Linked DNA regions of Homo sapiens. The protein of the gene in region 1 purifies or fractionates together with the protein of each later gene. This does not show direct contact. Each region holds a gene or a part of one and is shown in the gene's direction. Other genes may lie near its edges.

Region 1 (3,500 bases):
TAAGGAGTTAGCACCTACTATGTATGAATGCCAGATGCAGAAGACACAGCAGTGAAGAAAATATACAATAATTATTGACCCAGTGGAGCTGACTTTAGCAGAAGTGACAATAAACAAGATTGAAATAGCAAGTGTGTTAGTGATAAACAGAAATAAAAAATATGATAGGGAAGGTAGGTGTGAATTGTCATGGAAGGGGTGAGGTGACAGTTTAGATAGGGTGGCCAGGGAGGCTTCCAGGAGGAAGGTACTTTTGAGGTGATGCCTGAAGGCGGTATTTTTCTTCATCGCTGCCTTTTCTAACTTGAAGCCCAGTTCATCCCACTGTGGCATCGAGGAACAGAGTTTGGAGTTGGACACACCTTGGTTTCAAATCCCTGGCTTGACAGCTCACTAGCCCTGTGGACTTTGATGTGGTGCTAAATTCCTTTGAGCTGTGTTTCTTACCCAACGTGGAGTTAGTCATCATACTTACCACATGCGGCATCATGGCAATGTACAGTGAGATAACGTATGTTGAATGCTTAGCAAAGACTATAGAGAGGTTCGATAAACTATTTCTCCAACCAAATTCTGCAGGGGTAGCATGAGATATTTAATGTCATTGCTAAGGACTGTAGGTGCAAAGCTTTTCATTTTAGATATTGGGCAGGAGTGGGGAATTAGAGGGAGGGGAAAATAGAAAACCTTGGCAAAAACTTTCTGGTTAGGGAGGCTTTCCTGCCCTACCCTAGATTGCAGATGGCTGAGGACGTGGGACTCCCAGGTATGTCCTATGCCCACCCCCATCCTACAGATAGGATGACAGGGGCAGCCCTGACCACCCCCCTCTTGCTCTGGAATTCCCCCTGCTTCCAGCCAGACTCAATGAATCACACCTTCTCCCTGACCTCCCGACTCTGCCTCACAGCTGGGAAGGCTGTCCACCCCTCCCCCAGCCTCCGGCAGGTAAATTATGCCTGGAGGTCGGAAGCGGAGTGGGGCGGGGACAAGGGGTAGGGAAAGTGAGGGAGGGGGCAGATGGTGGGTGGAGCTGTCCTAGGAAAGCCCAGAAGGGTGGCAGGAGGATTCTGGTGGAGGCTTCGAGATGGCTCGGAAGACTTTGAATAAGGGTTCGCCAGGGACCAGAATTTAAAGTAACAGAGTGACAGACACAATGAGAACTCAGGGTCGGCTGCCTAACTCCTAGCCGCTTCTACCCAGCTGATCTGCTGAGTCTCCGACCCTCTCTGCTGGAACCACGGGCCTACAAAGGGAGGGGTTTAATCTAAAGTACCGCTGTCAAAGTTTGTGGTGAGTGGCTTCCTGGAGACCCTGCCCTAGTTCAGGAAGTGAGAGATGGGCAGTGGAGGATGAGGCCTAGGGAAGTGGTCATGGCCAGTTCCACCCCCCCGCCCCACCCCCCAAGTATGTCGCTGCACACTCGGCAGCCAGGCAGGCCCTGTGATGAAGGAACTTCCTGGGACTGCCAGTTGGTGCCTGGAGACGGGTAAAAGCTAGATGATCTGATATTAGAGGAAGTTGCAAAGAGGGCCCTGAACAGCCCCAAGCATGTTAGTGTTGGGTGACCTGAAGTCAGGAGAAAGAAAACTGGACAACGTGGACTAAACTGATCAGCAGGGGGCCCATCTAGAGCTGCTGGTAGCCCCTCTGTCTGTCAGCTGCCTGGGGATAAAGGTTGGCCATGCTAACTGGGTTGCTATCTGGGGACAGGAATGGTGCTGGACTCATCTTTGTGCCCAGACAGCATTGAGAATGGTACAAAGTGTGATCAACAGGGAGTGATGGGCTTCAGCCGTGGTCCCACCCTTAGAGTAATCTGGGCTTGTGGTCTCATTTGCTACAGCTTTTGTTCCATGGGATTAGGGAGAAGAAGGTAGTGTTAGGGTCGAGTCCAGCCCTAGGTGGGCTGTTGCCATCTGGGAATGCAAGCACTAGGGAGAAGAGGGCTTTATACAGTTCTGGCGGCTGGCCTTTGGGGAGGGAGCCCTACGTAAGCTCAAGGAATGGATTTTTAAGGACTTGCACTCTCTTTCATGCTGAGCAGACTTGGGCTGAACACAACCCAAATAGGGTTCTCGTGGGCACAGTGGTAGCTGTGCATGCAGCCTTTTGTGAAACACAGTTTGAGGGTCCTAGAAGTTGATCTGATTATTGCCAGAATCGGAGCTGGGACTGGAAGGGAAAGATGCAGGAGGAATGAAGTCGATTTTACCTTGGGAACAGGGTCCCAAAAGGAGAGATGGTTTCTACAGGTGCCGGAAGCTCTTAAAAACTCACATCCTTTACTTCCTAGGCTGTGAGACTGTGTGTGTGTGTGTGTGTGTGTGTGTGTGTGTGTGTAGTATTAGAAAGGAACCAGTATTCTCATATAGCTTCTATTCCTTCAGTTCATTGCTACATCCCCAGTGCCTGTTGTACAGTAGGATTCCAATAAGTATTTGTTGAATAAGTAAGTAAAACCCTACTGTGTGACGAGACCTTAGGAATTAAGGAAATGCTCACACTATGAATGTTCTGTTCCTGACAGAGAATGTCCATAAGATTCTAAGAAGTTAACCTGTAGTCAGCTGTTCTGACAGTGGGACAGGAAGCCCTGTATTCCTGCAGCATGTAAGAAGGAGACCTACAGTCATTGGGACCTGTCTTCCAAAGCTTGCTACACATTTTGCTCCCATGCAAGTTGGCCCCAAAGTGGACAGCAGGGTGTATTTATAGCGTTGGATATAGTTCTTCCCATAATGTGTTCCATAATATCCAATAACACCTCTCCTACCCTAAACTCTTATTTGGAACTCAGCCACCCAGCACCCTTGCTTATTTGCATGTAGCCAAGAAGGTCGAGGACTCAAGGTCCTACATTTTTCTTCATGCCAGTCTTCTCAGACCCTGTTTAACTTCTACATATAAGCTATGTCATGCTATGTTCAAGCTGGGAAGAAGCAGCAAATGAAAGAGGATAAAGGCCGGGCGCAGTGGCTCATGCCTGTAATCTCAACACTTTGAGAGGCTGATGCCGGTGGATCACCTGAGGTCGGGAGTTTGAGACCAGCTTGGCCAACATGGTGAAACCCCGTCTCTATTAAAGATAACAAAAATTAGCTGGGCATGGTGGCGGGCACCCGTAATCCCAGCTACTCGGGAGGCTGAGGCAGGAGAATCACTTGAACTCAGGATGTGGAGGTTGCAGTGGGCCGAGATTGCGCCATTGCACTCCAGCCTGGGCGACAAGAGCAGAACTCTGTCTCAAAAGAAATTAAAAAAATAAAATGAAAGAGGATAAAGAAACAAGCATAGAGGGGGAAAAATGACTACAGTGCAGAGTTGGCAGTGAGAGCAGACTGAGATAAAAACTCCAGGAAAAGCAAGTGCTAGCAGAAGTGCCGGGGATCTTTTTTTTTTTGGAGGGAGGGGGTGTGGAGGGAATGACTTGGCACACCTTGGGTGTCTGGGGATCATCAGTTTGATAATTTATGCTTTGCTGGTAATTGTGACCCAGA
Region 2 (2,739 bases), on another chromosome or scaffold:
TGTGTTGCTGCATGTGTTTACCATAGAGAACGTTGCCAGGCTTTGTCAAATGAGGACATTGTTGTGAGGGTGTGACTTTTGTGAAGCCAGAAAACTGTGCCTAAGATTCATTACAGTGAGTATGTGCAGAGGCCCCTGACCCAGTAAATGCTTTTTGCCTTTTTATTCCCAATGTCTTGGACAGTTGAGACAACTTGGCCCAACTCTGAATTGTAGCAGTGATGTCTTATATGCTTACGAGTTTATATTAATTCAGCTGAACAAGAACTACATCTTAAACCACCTTTGTAGGTATGATTAATACGTGCAACAGCTGCTTTAAAAGGTGGTATTTATTATTCATCACTCATGAAACTTGACTCAGTGAGGACTTCATTATTTTTATTTCTCTTTCCACGTCTCCAACTTTTTAAAAATCACTAATTTAACTCTTTGTTAAGTACTCAAGTACAAAGTGATCTCTTCTTTCATGAACTTTGCTATAACTGTTGAAAGGATTGGTGTCAGGCTCTCTCAACCCTGGGAGTTTCCAAAATTTAGCAAATATTACTTGTGATAAGCTTAAATGCCACATCGCTAAGTACAATTATTACCAGGAATCCGTCAAGGGGGAGATAGCCCCGCTCACACCCTTAGACCCAAACAGGTGCTGGTTCATGCTTTCTCCACAAATTGGCAGTTGGGTACTTCCCCACTGTCATCACAGTTGAGCTCATTTTAACATATATTCAAAGAAGCTTTTTAGTTTCTACTCCTGAATTGTAGTGTTCAAGTTATTTGCCTTCCTGGGTAAGAAAATTTTAACCCAAGTCTGGGATTCTCTGGCACCTGTCTTTTCCCATCTTTTAATGAGTTGGCAAGATTAGGTCAAATTTCAATGCTAAATTTGATTTTTTGAATTTTAAATAGTTGCACTTTATTTCATGCTGACCACCAACTTAATTTATACATTTTAAAATAAAATTATCCTAGAAGTGTTGTAAACGTGGGAAAATTTTAATTAGTGTTGGAGGTCATTAGATTGGACCCAGGTTTAAATATAATGATCTCTTCACAGCTTATTTGATGTTTAAGAGCAACTTGTGTGATCTTAGCTTTGCAGGTTTTCTGTAATTTATGTAGCACAATAAAGGATAACCAGTTGACTGTGTTACTGGACTCTGAGTTCTCACAGCTAGTTTCATCTAAGCTTGGTTTATTATCATTTCTGCTTTGGATTTTTTTGTGCATCACATGAATACTTAGAAATCCATTTGTTTTCAGTGTAGTACCTAGGGTGAAGTAGATGCTGCACAAGTAAGTTTAAGGGAATAAAAGTCCCGACACTTTATATACATGTTGAGGGGCACGATTTAAGAGACTGAAACAGTTTACATTAAACTGTTTTTATTTTCTGCCAGTAGACTCTATCTGCTTAAAAAAATAAAAATTGTTCAACCCAGTGTTCTCCAGCATCAGGACATTACAGTTGTAATCTATGTTGTAATCTTTTCAAATAAGAAAAGCTACTCCTTATTCTCTACAGTGTAGGCTTAATTTTAGAACCGATAATTTACTATATCTGCATTATTGATATTTTTAAGTAGTAGTTTTAAAAATAATTATTTCTATGTGGAGGGTGTTTTAATTTGGGATTTTTTTTTTCTTGTAACAGGTGCTATTTGTAAATATGAAGGGGAAAAGTCACTTAGTTAAAAGTCTAGCTTATGTCATAATTAAGATACAATTATTCATTTCATGTTTGATTCTATTAAACTAGTGGCAAAACAGAATTGGTCCCTTAGTTTTTTAGATTACCTTTCCCCCTATATCACAAAAATATCTCTTTCCATATGATCTCATAATTGAGGCAAAGAAGCTAAGGGTTTATTTAAAATGTGTATAAGCTTGAATTTGGTCAACACTGCATAATTTGAAATCACTCTGCATTTGTCACTGCAGCTTACTGTATGCTTGAAAGGCCTTGTGTGTTTGTCTTAATTTTAGTGAAAAAATTAGAATTTCTGCCATTCATGTACAAAAAAATTACAACTACAGCAAACAAGATAAAAATGCTGGTTTGCATTAATACTGTTTTAGTCTTAAGAGCAATTTATATTATGTGAAATGCTGTTACACATATTTTGTTGGCCATATTTCATTTTGAGAAACAGTTGTTCAGGTACAAACATGACAAACAACTCTAGCTATGACTCTTAATGTTCAATTGCAAAATAAAGATGTGCTTTAGTAATCTAAAGTACAGAAGTTTTGAAGATTATTTTATGGGAGTTTTTCATGGGCTTTTCTAACAGTGGTTATATTTAGTAACTGGTTATCAGGAATGGAGAGAATGACAAGTGTAAAATTTATTTCTGGAGTTATTGACTCACATAGTGGCTGTATTTGAGGAAAGGGAGTAGGTGAGGAACTAAAAGGGATTTAGAAGATTAAATAGTGTCTGAAGAGGCCGGGCGCGGTGGCTCACGCCTGTAATCCCAGCATTTTGGGAGGCTGAGGCGGGCAGATCACAAGGTCAGGAGATCGAGATCATCCTGGCCAACATGGAGAAACCCCGTCTCTACTAAAAATACAAAAATTAGCTGAGGGTGGTGGCGCACGCCTGTAGTCCCAGCTACTTAGGAGGCTGAGGCAGGAGGATCACTTGAACCTGGGAGGTGGAGGTTGCAGTGAGCCGAGATTGATTGCGCCACTGCACCCCAGCCTGGTGACAAAGTGAAACTCCATCTCAAAAAAAAA
Region 3 (3,500 bases), on another chromosome or scaffold:
GCTTGGAGGGTGCCCAGGAAGCCTAGGAGTTAGTGAGCAAGTCCCTGTGTGCCCTGCTGACAAGCTCTGTGGCTCCCCAGGAGAACTGTCCCAAGGCCCAGGGCTCTGGTCTGCTGAGGTGTATGTATGGCTGGGGGGCGGTGTCCAGAGGAGGCTGCTGGATTCTTCCAGCATTGCACTCAGGACCTTTGTTTGGTAGAGGCTTGGCAGCAGTCATCTCGCTGGACAGTGGTCAGCGTGTGCTTTGCCTTAGCCACAACATGTGGCCTGGGCTTTTGGGGAGAGGGTGTGCGTCTGGGGTGAAGCCCAGTGATGTTAATTCCTCCCAAGGCAGAGGCCCTTGCGGAAGTTCGGGAGGGTGCAGGTGGGTGACTCACCTGAGTGGGCTGATCTTCTGCCTGTCATGCGTCCTGGCAGGTGGGTCCGATGGCTCCCGGCTCTATGACTGCGTGTGGAGGTACAACTCAAGCGTGAATGAGTGGGCGGAGGTGGCGCCCATGCTGAAGGCCCGCGAGTACCACAGCTCCTCTGTGCTGGACGGACTGCTGTACGTGGTGGCCGCCGACAGCACCGAGCGCTATGACCACACCACTGACTCCTGGGAGGCCCTGCAGCCCATGACCTACCCCATGGACAACTGCTCCACCACTGCGTGCCGTGGCCGGCTCTATGCCATCGGCTCCCTGGCTGGCAAGGAGACCATGGTGATGCAGTGCTACGACCCGGACACCGACCTGTGGTCGCTGGTGGACTGCGGCCAGCTCCCGCCCTGGTCCTTCGCCCCCAAGACTGCGACTCTAAACGGACTCATGTACTTTGTCAGGTGAGTTCCAGGTGCCGAGCCCCACTGTGTGTTTGGTGTCTCTTACCAGGCCCTGTCTTAAGCACACATCATGGCTGTTCTCCCTTTTCCACAGATGAGAAACTGAGGCCTAGCTGGGGTTGGAGGCTGGGTCTGTCTCTTTGTTTTTGTTTTGTTTTGTTTTTGAGACGGAGTCTCGCTCTGTCGCCCAGGCTGGAGTGCTGTGGCGCAATCTCAGCTCACTGCAAGCTCCACCTTCCGGGTTCACGCCATTCTCCTGCCTCAGCCTCCAGAGTAGCTGGGACTACAGGCGCCCACCACCATGCCTGGCTAATTTTTTTGTATTTTTTGTAGAGACGGGGTTTCACCGTGTTAGCCAGGATGGTCTTGATCTCCTGACCTCATGATCGGTCCGCCTTGGCCTCCCAAAGTGCTGGGATTACGGGCGTGAGCCACTGCACCCGGTCTGTTTTTTTTTGTTTTGTTTTGTTTTTTTAAAAGAAGAGTTTCGCTTTTGTTGCCCAAGCTGGAGTACAGTGGCGCGATCTTGGCTCACTGCAACCTCTGCCTCCCAAGTTCAAGCCATTCTCCTGCCTCAGCCTGCCAAGTAGCTGGGATTACAGGCATGTGCCACCATGCCTGGCTGATTTTTATATTTTTAGTAGAGACAGGGTTTCTCCATGTTGGTCAGGCTGGTCTAGAACTCCTGACCTCATGTGATCCAGCTGCCTCAGCCTCCCAAAGTGCTGGGATTATAGGCACAAGCCACCACACCTGGCTCATTTTTTAACTTTTTGTAGAGACAGGGTCTCGCTGTATTGCCCCGGCTGGTCTCAAATTCCTAGCTTCAAACAATCGTCTCACATTTCCTGCCTCCCAGAGTGCTGGGATTGTAGGTGTGAGCCCCCACACCCAGCCAGGCCTGGTCTTTCGGAGCCCACAGTGCTTGTTCCATTCCTTTGGGTTTAAGGAAAACCCCAGGCTTTCTTAAGCGATTTCACAGGTGGTGGAGTTGAGCTCTTCCAGCAAGAGTAGGCTGTAGGCTGAGCAGCACGGAGCAGAGACAGGCAGCCTGCGGGTCATCATATGTCTGCTGGCCTTGATGACCTGTCTGGTCACAGCCAAATGCTGCCTCCGGCTGGTTTCTGGGCATCAATGATGGCACGGGGCAGCCCCTCCCTGCTGTACTCCGCTGCTTGTTCACATAATCCTGCTGCTCCCTCCCAGCCTAGAGCCTGCCTGAAGCTCTGGGTCCAGGAGGGAAGGGGAAGAACTGAATGACAGTCCCCACTGTGCCCTTTCGTGCTGGGGCTTTGAATGGGGAGCTTGGGGGATGTGAGCTCCCTGCTCCTTGGCCCCCTGCCTCGCACTGCCAGAGCTGCCCTGGCCTTGGCATCTGCCCCACCATCCCCCCAGACAGGAGGCTCCTTACCAGGCTTTTGGAGTGAGCACCAAGAAGAACAGGGGTGGCGTTGCTTGTCACGCAAGTAGCTGGGCACCACCACATGCCCAGAACCAATGGTCTTGCTCTGAGAAAGCCCTGGAATCTCAGCCAGCTCTGGTCCCATTATAAAACATCATCTGACCCTTTGCCCGGCTCTCCCTCCCCCAAGTTGTGAAGGTGTCTTCAAAGAGGGGGTGGAGATGGCTATAAATACAACTTATCAGAGGGCCAGAACCTTCCTTTCGGCCCCTAGGCAGTGGTTCCAGGCCCAGTGTCTTTGAGAGTCCTCCTCCCCTCCCCCATCTGTCCTAGAGCAAGATGTGAAGATGTGCGCCAGGGAGGTCTGCCTGCTGGGTTAACCTTCCCATAGGGAAGCATGAGGGTCTGCCCCGCCACCCCCACCCACTGCTGACCTTTCCAGGGGTTTCCTAAGCCACTTGCACGTGTGGGAGGAGGCAGTGCTCTGGAAAGGCTGCATGCGTTCATCTTACCAGTGTGACCTGTGCCGGAGCACAGAGGAGGGGCGCCCAGGCTCAGCCTGAGTGGAAGCTGCTTGAGCCCTAAAGAGAAGGCTAAGCATGCAGGGGCCCTGCTTGGGGCTGGTCCCCCTGGGCTATTTGTCCCGGTGTCACTTTGTCTGCGCACTTTGGCTCTTCAAGAGCCACATAACCCTCTGCCCAGAACACCACCTGTCTTTGGGCAGCTTGTGCCTAGGACGTGCCATTCTCAGGGAGGCCACAGCCTCAGCCGTTGTCCATGTGACCCACAAATGACCTGGGCCTCCCTCCCCTTGGTTCTGGTACAAAATGCCTCCTTGGCTGGGGTGCAGTAGCCCCCTCTGGGAATGCCGGCGAGCTCTGTCCAGCCTCTGGGCTGTGGTTTGCAAGTCTCTGCTGGGGAAAGACAGGGCAGCCTAGCAGGTTCCAGGGTGTAATCATCATCATCATCACCACCACCACAGGGCCCACAAACTGAGGGTGACTTTGACATTTTGAAATGATTGGGGGCAAAAAATCAGGAATAACATTTCAAGTTAGACGAGATGTAAATGTCTGTCCATGGATAGTTTTCTTGGCACACAGCCAGGCTCGTGTCTATGCATTGTCTGTGGCTGGTTTTGTGCTGCCGTGTCAGGTTCACAACTACTGTTGTTTGTCTTGTAGTATCTTTGTTTCTTTTTTTTGTTTTTGAGACGAAGTCTCACTCACTATGCCTCCCAGGCTGGAGTGCAATAGCACGCTCTTGGCTCACTGT
Region 4 (3,500 bases), on another chromosome or scaffold:
TATAGAGGAAGAGAGGAGTTGAGCTGAGTTCCAAAGGATGGGTAGGATTTGTAAAGGTGGACTCGTGGCTGGAGAGCATTCCAGGTGGATTAAGCAGCATGAGCAGGGGTTGGCGGCATGAAAGCTGACTCTGGGTGACAGTGAATAAGTTAAGTTGTTTGGAAGGGAAGGGGTTGGTGTTGTGGAGAGGTGGGAGGAATCACCAGCTCTCCATATGGCCATTGGCTAAGGCCCAGGTTTTTAGGTCTACCTTTATACCCAATCTCCACATCATTCAAAATCCTGGGTGTACAGATGTATATGTATTTGTATGTATCTCATCTGTGTGTCCTTGATGACTCTGAGAACTGGCTGTGGTTCTCATTGTACAGATCAGTGATTGTTCATGACTTACTTATACATTAAAATAGTTGGTTCCCTGTAGCCATAAACACAGTGCCAGCAAAGGGTAGCACCCTTACCCTCCTCTGAAACTATAAATTCTGACCCAGACAGAAAACAGTCCTCTCTTTCCTTTCACTTTGCAGAAGGTGACCAGAAACCCACCACTGCGTAATCCAGGTGCTGTTCTGTGATGTTGAAGTGTTTTTGTCTCCTGGAATATTGGTGGTTGGGCACATATTTCTGGTTGTATATAGCTGAAATTGAGCGTGTTTGGTCCATTGGTATATATGGATGTGTGAGTGAAATTCCCATGTGTGCTTGTACCTCATGACTCCTGCCCTCCCAAGCTGTAGTTCCTGCTCTTACTCCCCAGTCTGGAATGTCCTGTCCTCCCTTCCCACCTGGCTCTTCTGCAAGGCCTGCTTCCTTCCTTTAAGTCATGTAATAGTCAAGCACTCAAGGCTGCAGGTGCTTCATGGGTCTGTGTTTTCTCAACAGCAGCACCTAGCATAATGCTGGGTACAGAGTACATTCCTTCATGACAACATTTTTTTGTAGAGAGGGAAAAATGCTTGTTACTTTTTTTTTTAAAAGCTTATGTGGCATTGTCCTTTTAGAATTATCTTCTTGTTTTGCTATTAATCTGGCCTTCTTTTTCCCTCTTGGAGCTAAAGCTTGATTTTTAGACAACTGCCACAATTGATGCAACTTTCTCCTACCATTTTTACTTTTAAAAATTGACCTAGGCCGGGCGCGGTGGCTCACGCCTGTAATCCCAGCACTTTGGGAGGCCGAGGCAGGTGGATCATGAGGTCAGGAGATCCAGACCATCCTGGCTAACAAGGTGAAACCCTGTCTCTACTAAAAATACAAAAAATTAGCCGGGCGCGGTGGCGGGCGCCTGTAGTCCCAGCTACTCGGGAGGCTGAGGCAGGAGAATGGCGTGAACCCGGGAAGCGGAGCTTGCAGTGAGCCGAGATTGCGCCACTGCAGTCCGCAGTCCGGCCTGGGTGACAGAGCGAGACTCCGTCTCAAAAAAAAAAAAAAAAATTGACCTAGATGTGTGTCTGGATGGGGCAAGAGTAAAAGAGTGATGTGGATTACTGCGAGTTAGGATATCTGAGAAGGAGCTTCAACTTATATTTCTTGCTTTATAACAAAACCTGCGGCCGGGCGCGGTGGCTCACGCCTGTAATCCCAGCACTTTGGGAGGCTGAGGCGGGCGGATCATGAGGTCAGGAGATCGAGACCATCCTGGCTAACACCGTGAAACTCTGTCTCTACTAAAAATACAAAAAAAATTAGCCAGGCGTGGTGGTGGGTGCCTGTGGTCCCAGCTACTTGGGAGGCTGAGGCAGGAGAATGGCGTGAACCTGGGAGGTGGAGCTGGCAGTGAGCCGAGATTGCGCCATTGCCCTCCAGCCTGGGTGACTGAGCAAGACTCCGTCTCAAAATAAATAAATAAATAAAACCTGCTTGTGTTCTAACAAAACCCTGGAATATCTGAGAAGGAGCTTCAATTTATATTCCTTGCTTTATAACAAAACCTGCTTGTATTGTGAGGGCTCCTTCTTTCCCTCCCAGAAGTCTCTTGTTGGGGGATATTTCTTTTGACTTTTTGGTGGAGATGGAGGTGGTGGTGATAAGTTCCTCATTCCAATTTCCAAGGGTCTCTGCTCAGGCGTAAGACCTCTGTATGAGTCCTGCCTGCTTCCATGGTCAGGAGCAGTTCCTGCCAGCAACCCTGATGACCACTTGAAGCCCTAACCACAACATCCCTGTCCTACCATGTTCTGCTTTCTCTGTAGCCACTTCCTTTTTGGATGTGGAGCTCATTGGTTCCTTTTCTCCTTACATGGGCCATTCCTATACGTGAGTTCTTCCAGCATTAACATCAGCTTTGCACCCTCCCTCTGAGAGTCCTGCCAGGGCAAGCTGCTTGCATCTGCTCCTCGGCGTGCTCCTTACTCCGCACACTCCTCACTCTCAGCCATGTGCGTGAAAGGAAGAATGCAGGCTACTGCTCAGGAGTGGACTTGAGCCACGGACGGTGTCCTTGACAGAAATGCTTTCCATTTTATAGGACAATGAAATATACGTTAGACTTCCAGAGGTCCAGTTTCTTAACTTTATTTGTTATTGGTTCCTGTTTTGAGAATAAAGCATCTATTCAGTCTGATATCTTGGCTTCTCAGAAATTTAATTTTTCACCCTCTCTTTTCTTACTGGGTTTTGTCTTCCATAAAAGCAATCATCTGAAGCACTGTGCATGCCAAAGCTCCATGCAACTTCTCTTTTTTAATCTAACACAGTATGTCTTTTGTACCTTTGCTTAGACCTGGGATTTTCAGCCTTGTCACTATTGACATTTTAGACATTTTAGACTTTGTTGTAGGGGCTGTCCTGTGTGTCGTAGGATGTTTAGAAGCATCCCTGGCCTCTACTCACTAGATGTCAACAACTCCACTCCTCTTTCATTTATGACAACCAAAAATGTCTCTAGACATTGCCACAAGTCCCTGGGGGGGTTGTGTGTGGGTGGGTGTCTTTGTGCTCACATGCATGCAATATTATCCCTAGCTGAGAGCCACTGGCTCTTGCTGTTTTCACCCCCTGGAATGTCCTCCTTTCCTCATCTCTGCCCTCATTCCCTGCCTGCCATACTCTTACTCATCCTTCAAGACCAGATGTGAGAAATCTTTCCCAATCCCCCAAAACAGGTCAATGTCACATTCTCATGTGCTCTCAGGATACATGGACATTTATTCATAACAGAGAATTTATCATATTCATATTCCTCACCAACCTATGGAATCCTCAAAGGCAGATAGCCTGTTCAGAGGTAGATCCAGGTTTTCTGGTGCTTTGAACCTCATAATGCTTGGGGGCAACCACCTTTAAGAAAAAGAATGTAAATCATGAATGCAGAATAAAATGCAAGGCTTTGGAAGGGGAAGGTGCAAGTGAGTGGCTGTGAAGCAAACCTACCTTTAATCCTTTTGCGTTTTCTGTGATGCTACAGAATTTGCCCTTCCCCATGTTTAATACATCTTAAAATGAATTAACTGAGTACTCAAATGTTGGCTGATTGGTCTTCAACCAATGGAATTATTTCT
Region 5 (3,500 bases), on another chromosome or scaffold:
AAGTTTATGAGGGTTTCATCTAGAGGGAAGGATACAGCGATCACATCTTGATCACCCTGGTGTTTGGGGCAGAGCCAGTGGCCTTCATAAAAATCCTGTTTATGTCCCTCCCAGCGTTGGAGATTTTTCTCTGTAAGTCACACACATCCCAAGACACTTAACTGTCACTGAGAACCTGGGTGCCCTGGTCTGTCCTCATCCTGCCTCTCACCTTGTTTGCTTCCGATTTCACCCACGCCACGCCAACCCTGCACAGCATTCTACCCACCCTGCGCAGTTCACACTGGAGGCAGCTGTTTACTGAGGAGCTGCTCCACGCTAGGCCCCGGGCTAGCCCTTGGGGCCCTAGAGGTGAGCAAGGTTCAACTCAGTACCTGTCCCCAAAGTGTCCCCAGCCCCCAAGGAAACAGACATGGAATCGCCATCACACTGGCGCTCAGTGCGGTGACAGAGGAACACAGAGAGGCCGTGGGCACCCCAGGAGGCCTTTCTCTACTTTGTCAATTTGGTGAACTCCCATACATCCCATAAAACCCTACTGGCCTTCACCTCTGTAAAGCCTTTCTGCGCAGGCCAGATGACAATTGTGATCTTTCCTGTGTCCCCTCTTGCCTTTTGGATCCGACACTGTCTGTCCTTAGTGTCTGTATCTTCCTTGCCCCTCATCTTGACTAGACTGTGGCTTCTGCGGAGGCAGCATGTTTTACTCATGAAACCCCCAAACCTTCAGGGAAGGTTTCCTTTCTCTCTTCTTCTCTTTACTAAAAAACTGGTTTTGAGCTCTGGTTTGGTGGATGGCAGCAAATGGCTGGAGCACTGGATGAACTGGGTCCCAAGGCCGCCTGGAGAAAACAGAAAGCAATGTTGCCGGAAGGAAGCAGGAGGTGGACTGAGATGCCAAGACTTTGCTGGGCCAGTGATGCTCTGCCCTTCTCCAGAGCAGCTGGGCTCCCTCTCTCTCCTGAGAGTCCAGGGATCCCCAGGGTGGGCAGTGGCTGCACCCCGAAGGAAGGGAAGGTTAGCAGCATAGCTAAAATATCTGACACAGGAATACGTGCAGGGAGGATGCCTTGGAGGAGTCACACTAACACCAACTCCCAGGCACACAACCTAGAAGCAAAGACACAGAGGCAACAATGCAAGAACCACCCAGAGCCAGGCTGTCACTCACACCGGTGCTGCGTGCACACACACACACACACACACACACACATGCATGCACATACACGTATACTCAGTCATGCATGCACACTCACATGCACACTCATATGCACACACTCATACATGAACTCTCAGCCATGCACACTCCCACACACACAGGCTGGGTGCCCTGGTGTGTGGGAAAATTTAACGTGGGCTGCAGAGCTGCCTCTGCTCCAAAGGAGCTCAGTGCTTGTCACTCCGACTGCAGCACCGAGGCTGTCACCTCCCATCTCAGCTGTTCCCTGAGAGCTCAGGGACACAGCCCATTCATTCATTCTCTCACACATTCACTCATTCACTGGAGAGTCTCTCTGCTAGGCCTTGGACTGAGCGCTAGAGAGATGGAGAGATAAACAAGAGGTGACGCCTTGCTCCCGTAGCTGATCCCTAGTCCACTGGGAAAGCTGATGGGACCAGTTGACAGCCTCAGGGTTGGTCAGGGCTGTGCAAGGGACCTTCAGGGCTGTGAAAGCTCAGTGTCTGATGCCATGGCAAGGACTCCTCGCACCAACTGTCTGAGATGAAAGTTCGTATGAGTCAGGCTAACTCCACCGCTGTAACAAAACAACACCAGCAGTCCAGGGCCGAGCACGGAAATGCATTTCTCACTATGGGAAGGTTCGATGTGGATGTGCTGGTTGGGACACAGCTCTCCTGCAGGATCCTTCCATCCCCATCCCATGAGTCTCAGTCCCTAAGGCTTGGGTCCTCACCTTCCAGGTGGGGAAGGTGCTCCCGCTGCTTAGCTGCATCAGGGCCAGGTATCACTTTGCTCACATCCCATTGGTCAGAACTAGTCATGTGGCCATGTCTGGGCACAAAGGCTGCTGGGAAATGTAGTCCACATGTAGACAGCTGTTTCCCAGTGACAGCACTGCATTGCAGGAGGAGGTGAGGAGGCCTGGCAGACAATTGGCTGGCTCTGCCACAGTATCTTTTTGTTTCATTTTAGAGTTGAGGAAATTGGGGTATAGGAGGGTTCAGCCACTTATTCACAGACCCACAGCAGGTAAGCATCCATGCCTCTCTTGCAGGGCTGGTGGGCGGCGGGCATTTGCCATCTGTCACTGCCTATTTCAGACCACGGAGGATCAGGATGGACGCCCACCCCTGTGTTCCAGCCTCCGGTTGGGATCACATGCTCACGGCATGCTATGTCCTGATGCCACCACCTGGCCTTCACCTCTTCCCTGCCTCCTCATCCTCTGCAGGTGCCAGTGCTGAAGCCCATGGATCTGATGGTGGAGGTGAGCCCTCGGAGGATCTTTGCCAATGGCCACACCTACCACATCAACTCCATCTCCGTCAACAGTGACTGCGAGACCTACATGTCGGCGGATGACCTGCGCATCAACCTCTGGCACCTGGCCATCACCGACAGGAGCTTCAGTATCCTTCACTGTGGCCTGGCCAGTGCCTCCCACGGGCAGAGTAGCTTCCGTTGGGTGGTGGGTTTGGTTTGATTGGCAGACAGCTGGTTTGGGGATGGCTGCATTGTTTAACTTCTTCAGTGAGGCACCTCTGGCTCCTAGTATGCGTGTGAGGCCCAGATACAAAATCATGTCACGTCTGTTTCTGAAAACCGCAAAGTCGTGGTTGCTGAGCATTGCACCCATCGCCTCCTCCAGCATGGCCATGATCCCCTCATCCTAGGGCCTCACAAGGGGCCAGGAAGGAGACAGAGTTCAGGGTTCAGCTGCTCTGGACGAGGGACTGCTGGCCTTGCTCAGCGTCCACTGAAGGCGCCTCGGGGCCCTCCCCACTGGGACCCAAGGCAGGCTGTGTTAGCATAGGAGGACCAGCACTGGGGCCCCGGCCAGGGCTTCGGGTGACAACCAGGGTGTCAGAAGCCCAGCTGGGTTGGGGTCCTGAGGGCCCCCTGCTCGGTGTTCTCCTGTGTCAGGGCAAGCTAGGGGAAGCAGCAGCATTGACGATTCCCGCCGACTGCTGGGAAGAGAGCTGGTGATGACATGAGCACCAGCCTGCAGGCAGGGCGAGGCTTGGCCTGCCGGGGGGCTGGTGGGCGGGCAGGCAGGTTGCTGTGATGTCACTATTCTGCATACAACCAATGATAATAATAATTATAATAACACACAGTGAGACTCTGTGTGCCAGGCTCTGTGACTAACATCAACAAGCATTCATTTTAACTCATTTCACCTTCACAACAACCCTATGAGGTAGGTACTATTCTAAGTCTCCTTTACAGATGAGGAAACTGAGTCACAGAGCACTCAAGTTAACTTGCTCAAAGCTCACAGCCAGCAAGTGTCAAAGCTGGGCCTGAAACCCAGGCC
Region 6 (3,500 bases), on another chromosome or scaffold:
TAATGGTAGGTCTTTCCAAAATAGTCTACCTGTTACTCTGTGCAACAAAAACAGATAACCAGTTTGCAGGGAATCTGGATGTAAGGAAATGTGCTCAACTTTAAGGCTCTGTTGAATATAGTTTCATACTGTATAATTTAGAAGACTAAAGATCTTTTTTATTGCATAACCTCTGTGTAACAATTTACAGTTTATGAAATGCTTTCTCCAGTATCTCACTTGATCATAAGCAGTACCCTTTGAGTTAGCTGTCATTATCATCTATCATTCATGGATGAAGGAGACTGAGCCACCGTGATCAAGTCACTGTCCCAGATCGTACAGCTTCTAGGTATAGAGCCAAGATTCAAACCAGGTGTCTTGAGCTCACATCCTGCATTCATACCATTGTATCACACTGATCCCCGGTAAAGATTGATTGTTCCTGACTGCAGGTGTATTAAATGCTTGCTAATAGAAAGCCATTGTGGTAGATTGCCAGAGAAACGAGCTTTGCTAGCTCTTTACATCCAGAGCCTTATGTTCATTTGTCTGAAGGCATTCACATTTTCAGTGTACCTGCTTTTTTCATGCAGTGCCTTTCCAAGTTTCTCTTTTTTGAATAATTTGCATCCCATACAAACATTATTAGGTCGGTGTTTAGAGATTGAACTCCATCATATTGCCTGTCACTAATCCACTGCATAGAAAAATATGAAAATAATGTCATTAACATCAGTTTTTCTTATAATAGCTATGTACTGCTGCTTTAACTGCCTATCAATTATAGGTAGAGAGTACCCTAGACTGAAATCTACTGAGTGACCTGACAGGTCTGAATGAAAGCCCAGCACTCCTAGACAACCAAGGGTCTGTTGTGTGGCCAGAAGGGTTGAGTTTGTAGCCATGGAAGTGAGCAAAGACCAGTGGTCCACCTAGGAATTATCTTCATATGCTCAGACTAAGATTTTGCCATCTCTACCACAACTGACTGATTAACACAAGATCTATAAACGAAATATTCCTGTGCAAGAGAGTGGGGTACAAAAAAGAGAAAACTGTTTCTTCATAATTGAGAAGGTTCCACGGAGGAGGGGAGATGGTTAATTTGGAAACAAGAGAGAAATCCATGACATGGGAGGTTCTGGAAAGAGGGCATATGATAGGCTCTGGGTAACGGGCAGCTCTAGGGAATAGAGAAAGGTCACTGGGTCCTTTGCCTTGAAGAAAAGCTTTTATCTTTCCTAAAGACTTTTATATATACTTAGGACCTTTGTTTTGCGTACATTTTTATGACCTAAGTTTTTGAATTTAGCCTTATTTTATGTGGACTTTTCATGTATTTACATCACCTAACTTTTTAATTCCATTCACTGTTACATAAATATGTAAATAAGTAATAGTTTACTTAATCATTTCTCTATTATTTACTGATACATGAGTTGCTTCCACTTATTCCATATTAGAAATAGTACAAATAAAACCATATTTTTACAAAGAGTTTCTTTTTCTGAGTCCAGGTACCAAAATTAAAATTACTAGGTCATCATATTAATTCTCTGTGTCTTTTTCATATTGCCAAGTTGTTCTTTGAAACGATTATATTAATTTACAGTGTCACTAGCCTCAAACAGTGGGTTTTATGATCTCTTGAATTTTGTTCTCATTTTATCAGATGAGGCATTACCACATAGCTGTTTTATTTTGCTGAGCCAAACATCGTGTCAAATGTCAGTTTGCTATTTGTATTTTTTTCTAACAGGAGCTCTATTCAGATCAGCAGCCTATTTGTGCCATAGAGACTGAGTATTCACTTTCTAACTTTATGTAGTTTAAAAATGTTAAATAGTCTAGTTTTCTAAGTAGTTTAGTTGTTTTAATATTATTTAATAACTCTTAGCCAATAAAAAATATTGGGACATGTGCAGTGTCCAATAAATCCAAAGTACATTTTACTTTAAAATATAAAGAAAATATAAGATATGTTTTTCCCATAGTATACACATCCTTTAAAGGAATCAGGTTTGAGCTGTTACAAGAGGAGGCAGGTGCTGCCCCAGGGGATGGATCAAAACCTGGAAATAAATCAGCTGAGGGTGGCACGTAGCCTGGCTGTCATGCCAAGGCTGGGAGTTTAGTAGAGATGCTGGAGTTGATAATGGAAAAATGGTAATCTATGATAAATTTGTCAGTTCATATCAAGAAATGGGCTAGAAATCAAGGCTAGGCAAGGATGGGATGAAAATGTGCTTTTGTGGTTGGCCTGGGCTTTACCAGCATCCTGCCCTTATCTTAAAGGAATGGAGTGACTGGAACAAGCAAATGGAACAAGAGGGTGGCTCCCAGGCATTCCTGCCACTGACCTCTGGCCCCTGTTCTTTAACTGGAATCATCAAAGATAAATGAAAGTCGCTTAGGGTGAATGCACATTGAGAACAGGGAATCACATAGTTCTTTCACCATTTCTGCTTTAAAAGTCGAGCAGTTATGCAGCTATCTACCGTGTGTGTGCATGCATGCACGTAGGTGTGTAAAAGACATACCCTGTTGTAATTTACTTTTTCTTTGCAAAAAAATCTGTTGGCTTGTCTTGTCCTGGGAATGAGATAACTTTTTAAAAACATTTTTCTAATGTGTGTTTTCCAATTTAAATACAATTCACTGAAATATTTTCTTTCTAGTCTCCAGAGAATACAGAGGGCAAAGATGGATCCAAAGTAACTAAACAGGAGGTAAGTATATCTTTGACATCCTATATTTAATTATTTACATTGAAATGTTTAATATTGTTAGGATTGTCTGCATCTGAATGAAATGCGGACAATTGTATGAACAAAGTTTAATATGAATGATCAAGGTTGTTAAGACTACCTGAAAGAGCGATAAGTGTCTATATGTAGTCTCGCTTGGCCTAGGTGTGTTTCAGTTGGGTATATTGATGAGGCATTTTCCACTTACTGTGTTGTTTATGTTTCTACCTGTCAGCCCTGCTTTCTGTTAAAGCAGATACTGAGAATTCCTTCTGGGCAAAGAGTAAGATAATAGGTAAATTCATCAAGGAGAACAAAGTCTGCCTTTCACAGCAAGAAAATGAAAGACTGTTGATCTCATAAATTCTGTGCTCCAGTGAGTGGATTATAAGTCACTTTTTAGGTTCTGAATATTTTGCCTGAGAAGGATCATCTCTAAAATCAAAAACTATAGGCCGGGCGCAGTGGCTCACGCCTGTAATCCCAGCATTTTGGGTGGCCGAGGCGGGCGGATCACGAGGTCAGGAGATAGAGACCATCCTGGCTAACACGGTGAAACCCCATCTCTACTAAAAATATAAAAAGTTAGCCAGGCGTGGTGGTGGGCGCCTGTAGTCCCAGCTACTCGGGAGGCTGAGGCAGGAGAATGGTGTGAACCTGGGAGGTGGAGGTTGCAGTGAGCCGAGATCACACCACTGCACTCCAGCCTGGGTGACAGAGCGAGAGAGACTCTAAAAAAAAAAAAAAAAGAAAAAGAACTGTAGAGGGATA
Region 7 (3,500 bases), on another chromosome or scaffold:
ACAGGAGTTTGAGTCCCTATAAAAGGAGGAAATGGGCTGGTTCACACTCTTGCTATCCGCTTTCCAAATGTTTTTAGAAAACAATACTACAGGATATTTTAGAAAAGCTCCTTTGCATGGTCTGTACCACATGGAAAGTCTTTAACTGGTGTCAAGCATCTCTGGAATGCACACAAGCACCCTAGTTAAGATCAGCTTCCCAAATCATAGTTCAGTTCATGAAAGGGCATCTTGCTATGCCCAGGTTCTGCCTGTTAGCTCTGAAAGCAGCGGCTCTGGCTTGTGCTCAAGAATGTTTGGCTCTTCTCCCTAGATCAGGTGACCTCTGCCCAGCCAGGTCACCATCTTCAGCATACACTGTTCTTAGCAAGGAAACTGCTGGGGACAACAAAGCAGTGTGGATTAAAAAATAAAAAAGTAATGGCGACTGTTTATGCTTTCTACTTCTGCCTGTATCTGCAGGGCTGATCAAAAGGCAGCAGTGAGATAGAAAAATTTTATCTTTCTCTTTGCTTCATCGGCCTGCTAGGTAGAGGGAATTTACTTGCTAGTATTTCATAATCAGTTGATAAAATAGCTCTAAAAACTTTATCTGTACAAGTATTTCAGACTGCTACATTATGAGCAAGTCATGTGGCTAAAAATGATCATAAATGGGGGAAAAGGAGGGGGTGGAAGGGGATCAATTCTAATGGAAACGGAAAGATTCTATCAGCCACCAGCCTGCTGCATTTTAGAACGCTGAGATTATTTTGAGTCTTCTGGCTTAATGTCAAGCAATGCCAGAAAGTCCTTTTCCATTTCCACCTGCAAATTTCTCTTCTTTGAAATACATCCCAGAGATTGGGGTAGTCTCTTAGAAAGTCACCTTCCCTGCAACCTCGCTGAAATCAGTTGTCCTGTTTGGCACCCATGCGTCCACCTAGCACACGCCCCAGCTTCTGGAGAAGAGTGACATCCATACTTCCCTGAATGAGTGCCCACCCCCAAGCTCCTGTGAGTGAACATGCCATGTAACTTCTCCCTCTGGCTCTTTATTTCAGAAGTGGTGACACGCATCTTTTTGATAAGGTCAGAGGCTATGACATCAAGCTGCTTCGATACCTGTCAGTCAAATACATCTGTGACCTGATGGTGGAGAACAAGAAGGTGAAGTTTGGCATGAAGTAAGTACAGGCGCCCACTACAAAATGAGCAGAGGCAGTGTGTACAGATTTGCAGGGCTGGCGTTAGTATGTAGCTGTCACTGCGTGCTGGCCTTCTTACAAAGGGCTTTCTGTACATTATCTCACTGTATCTTCAGACAGCCCTGCAAAATAGGTACCAGTGTCCCCCTCTTACAGACACTGAAGCACAGAGAGATGAAGTAGCTTGCTCAGGTTGTATGTTAGTGACTGAGGCAGCCATCAGTCTCTACCCAGTGCTCTGCTGCCACCTTCTCTTACATATCTCTGTATTTTTTTTTTCCAGCTCCATGTTCTATGCCATGTGTGGCAGATTAGAATCTCTTAATTTTTTTAATTTATTTTTCATAGTGACAGAGTCTTTGTTGCCTAAAGTGGTCTCAAACATGTGGCCCTAAGCAGTCCTCCTGCCTCAGCTTCCCAAAGTGCTGGGATTACAAGAATGAGCCCACTGTGCCTGGTCCTAGAATTTCTTTTAAAATTGAACAAAAAAATCAGCATATATTCAAATTTTACTTCAGTGACTGCTGTCATATAAAAATAACACATATGGACCAAATTCAAATATAAGAAGTCAAAACTAAAAAATAGAGCCTGGGTTAGTGATGAGACTTCAGGAACTTTTTCCAAAATTTTGTTTTTTAAATGATTTTTAAATGTTTTTAAATGATCCTAAAAGGTGGTCTTAGAAAATAAGGCATACTGAGGCTAACGTTAGAGCTCACCTATCTTCAGATCTGAATATTGCCTTATTCCTCCCATCCTTTATCTGTCAGAGTCCCCAGTGTTTATTTTCAGATGCTGTTTGTTCACCCTGTTCAGAAGTGGGCTCAGTGACTATTAGAGAAGACAGGAGAGCAGAAAAAAAGGGTTCCCATAGGATCATATTATTTGGCTCTCATCTCATTCCTGGGTCAGAGTGGCTACACTGTGTGCATTTTGGGGTCAGGTGGAAGGTTGTTTTCCACCTTTAGGCTCTGATTGAGGCTTGCTGTAGTATTAGAGGGGGAGTAACTTCCCTTGGTTGATATGTTGGAATAGGGGCAGAGAAGGTAGAGTTCTTTTTTTGACATGGAGCCTCACCCTGTCACCCTGGCTGGAGTGCAGTGGCACAATCTTGGCTCACTGCAACCATCTGCCTCCTGGGTTCAAGCAATTCTCCTGCTTCAGCCTCCTGAGTAGCTGGGATTACAGGAGCGCGCTGCCACACCCCACTAGTTTTTTATATTTTTGATAGAGACAATGTTTCACCATGTTGTCCAGGCTGGTCTTGACGGGGTTTCTCCATGTTGGGAACATGACCTCCAGCCGATGCACCCAGCTGAAGTTATAGTTCTTAATTGTACAAAGTAGGCACTGCTGAAGGGAATTATTAACAATGAAGAATAGTTTTTTTTAGCAGAAGCTTCATTTGTGATTATAACCCTTATTTGGGGAATGGTGTGTGTTTGTGTGTGTGTTGCGACACTGTAACACATTGTATCCTTGTCTTGTAGTGTAACCTCCTCTGAGAAGGTGGACAAAGCCCAGCGCTATGCCGACTTCACTCTCCTCTCCATCCCGTATCCAGGTAGGGGGCTCTCTTCTAGTGGCAGGCATCCTAGGACTGGGGACCTTGGGGGCCATGAGCAAGCCCTCTCTACTTAGTTACACTGGCGCCCTGGGAGCTTTCCTGGAGGGTTTGTGTCAGGCAGTGTAGGACATTTTGGTTCCCAGTCACAGGCCACACTAAGCATAGGATAGTGTCCTGGGGAAGGGGCTTTCCACTCAAGGGGTTTAGGGATTTTGTACTGTCACTGGTCCTAGCCACAGCCTTGAGTGAAGTACTTCACCCCTCCAAGCCTCAAGTTTTCTCAGGAGCTTGGAACGATTTAGCTCAGTTTTGATTTATATGAAAGTGGTCTGTGCATGAAAATACTGTTTAAGTGTAAAATGACATTATTAGTACTCTGTGTGAGCAACTACACTTGCTGCTGTAGCCTGAGTGGATGTCACCCTTTGGGTGCATGTCTTGAAGTGATTGAGTTATTTATGGAAATTGCCCCAGGCAAGGCTATTCTGGTGGTAGAAGAACACATAATTGCTATGTTCCCAGTAACTGGACAGTGGCCACACCATGTTGCAAAGCACATTGGTATCCACAAAGCTGCATTTGTTCCTGGCACATAAAAGTGTGTGCAACCTGTGGCCAGGGCTGTATTCTCTGCACTGGATATTAAAGCTGTTGGTCTAGTGTGTAGCATTCAAGTTTTCTGGCAATACCTGCCTGTTTAGTAAGGGAGGCCAAGGACCTCTAACATCAGTGCAAGATGTTGT

The links.
Region 2: the proteins of PLEKHG3 (region 1) and PTPN4 purify together in Homo sapiens (co-immunoprecipitation; one large-scale study listed by IntAct). This does not show direct contact.
Region 3: the proteins of PLEKHG3 (region 1) and KLHL21 purify together in Homo sapiens (affinity purification with mass spectrometry; one large-scale study listed by BioGRID and IntAct). This does not show direct contact.
Region 4: the proteins of PLEKHG3 (region 1) and MYO1D purify together in Homo sapiens (affinity purification with mass spectrometry; one large-scale study listed by BioGRID and IntAct). This does not show direct contact.
Region 5: the proteins of PLEKHG3 (region 1) and PPP2R2C purify together in Homo sapiens (co-immunoprecipitation; one large-scale study listed by IntAct). This does not show direct contact.
Region 6: the proteins of PLEKHG3 (region 1) and HMGN3 purify together in Homo sapiens (affinity purification with mass spectrometry, with the first as the bait; one large-scale study listed by BioGRID). This does not show direct contact.
Region 7: the proteins of PLEKHG3 (region 1) and MTMR14 purify together in Homo sapiens (affinity purification with mass spectrometry, with the first as the bait; one large-scale study listed by BioGRID). This does not show direct contact.

Annotation. Positions count from the first base shown.
Region 1 is NC_000014.9:64,707,424-64,710,923, forward strand, and holds part of PLEKHG3 (pleckstrin homology domain-containing family G member 3), read left to right. Parts: intron 1-3,500. UniProt on the Homo sapiens protein: Plays a role in controlling cell polarity and cell motility by selectively binding newly polymerized actin and activating RAC1 and CDC42 to enhance local actin polymerization.
Region 2 is NC_000002.12:119,982,661-119,985,399, forward strand, and holds the end of PTPN4 (tyrosine-protein phosphatase non-receptor type 4), read left to right. Parts: 3' UTR 1-2,239; downstream 2,240-2,739. UniProt on the Homo sapiens protein: Phosphatase that plays a role in immunity, learning, synaptic plasticity or cell homeostasis. Regulates neuronal cell homeostasis by protecting neurons against apoptosis.
Region 3 is NC_000001.11:6,596,370-6,599,869, reverse strand, and holds part of KLHL21 (kelch-like protein 21), read left to right. Parts: intron 1-417; coding exon 418-823; intron 824-3,500. UniProt on the Homo sapiens protein: Substrate-specific adapter of a BCR (BTB-CUL3-RBX1) E3 ubiquitin-protein ligase complex required for efficient chromosome alignment and cytokinesis.
Region 4 is NC_000017.11:32,870,625-32,874,124, reverse strand, and holds part of MYO1D (unconventional myosin-Id), read left to right. Parts: intron 1-3,500. UniProt on the Homo sapiens protein: Unconventional myosin that functions as actin-based motor protein with ATPase activity. Plays a role in endosomal protein trafficking, and especially in the transfer of cargo proteins from early to recycling endosomes.
Region 5 is NC_000004.12:6,371,615-6,375,114, reverse strand, and holds part of PPP2R2C (protein phosphatase 2, regulatory subunit B, gamma), read left to right. Parts: intron 1-2,414; coding exon 2,415-2,592; intron 2,593-3,500. UniProt on the Homo sapiens protein: The B regulatory subunit might modulate substrate selectivity and catalytic activity, and might also direct the localization of the catalytic enzyme to a particular subcellular compartment.
Region 6 is NC_000006.12:79,214,183-79,217,682, reverse strand, and holds part of HMGN3 (high mobility group nucleosome-binding domain-containing protein 3), read left to right. Parts: intron 1-2,660; coding exon 2,661-2,711; intron 2,712-3,500. UniProt on the Homo sapiens protein: Binds to nucleosomes, regulating chromatin structure and consequently, chromatin-dependent processes such as transcription, DNA replication and DNA repair.
Region 7 is NC_000003.12:9,670,005-9,673,504, forward strand, and holds part of MTMR14 (phosphatidylinositol-3,5-bisphosphate 3-phosphatase MTMR14), read left to right. Parts: intron 1-1,043; coding exon 1,044-1,166; intron 1,167-2,680; coding exon 2,681-2,754; intron 2,755-3,500. UniProt on the Homo sapiens protein: Lipid phosphatase that specifically dephosphorylates the D-3 position of phosphatidylinositol 3-phosphate and phosphatidylinositol 3,5-bisphosphate, generating phosphatidylinositol and phosphatidylinositol 5-phosphate.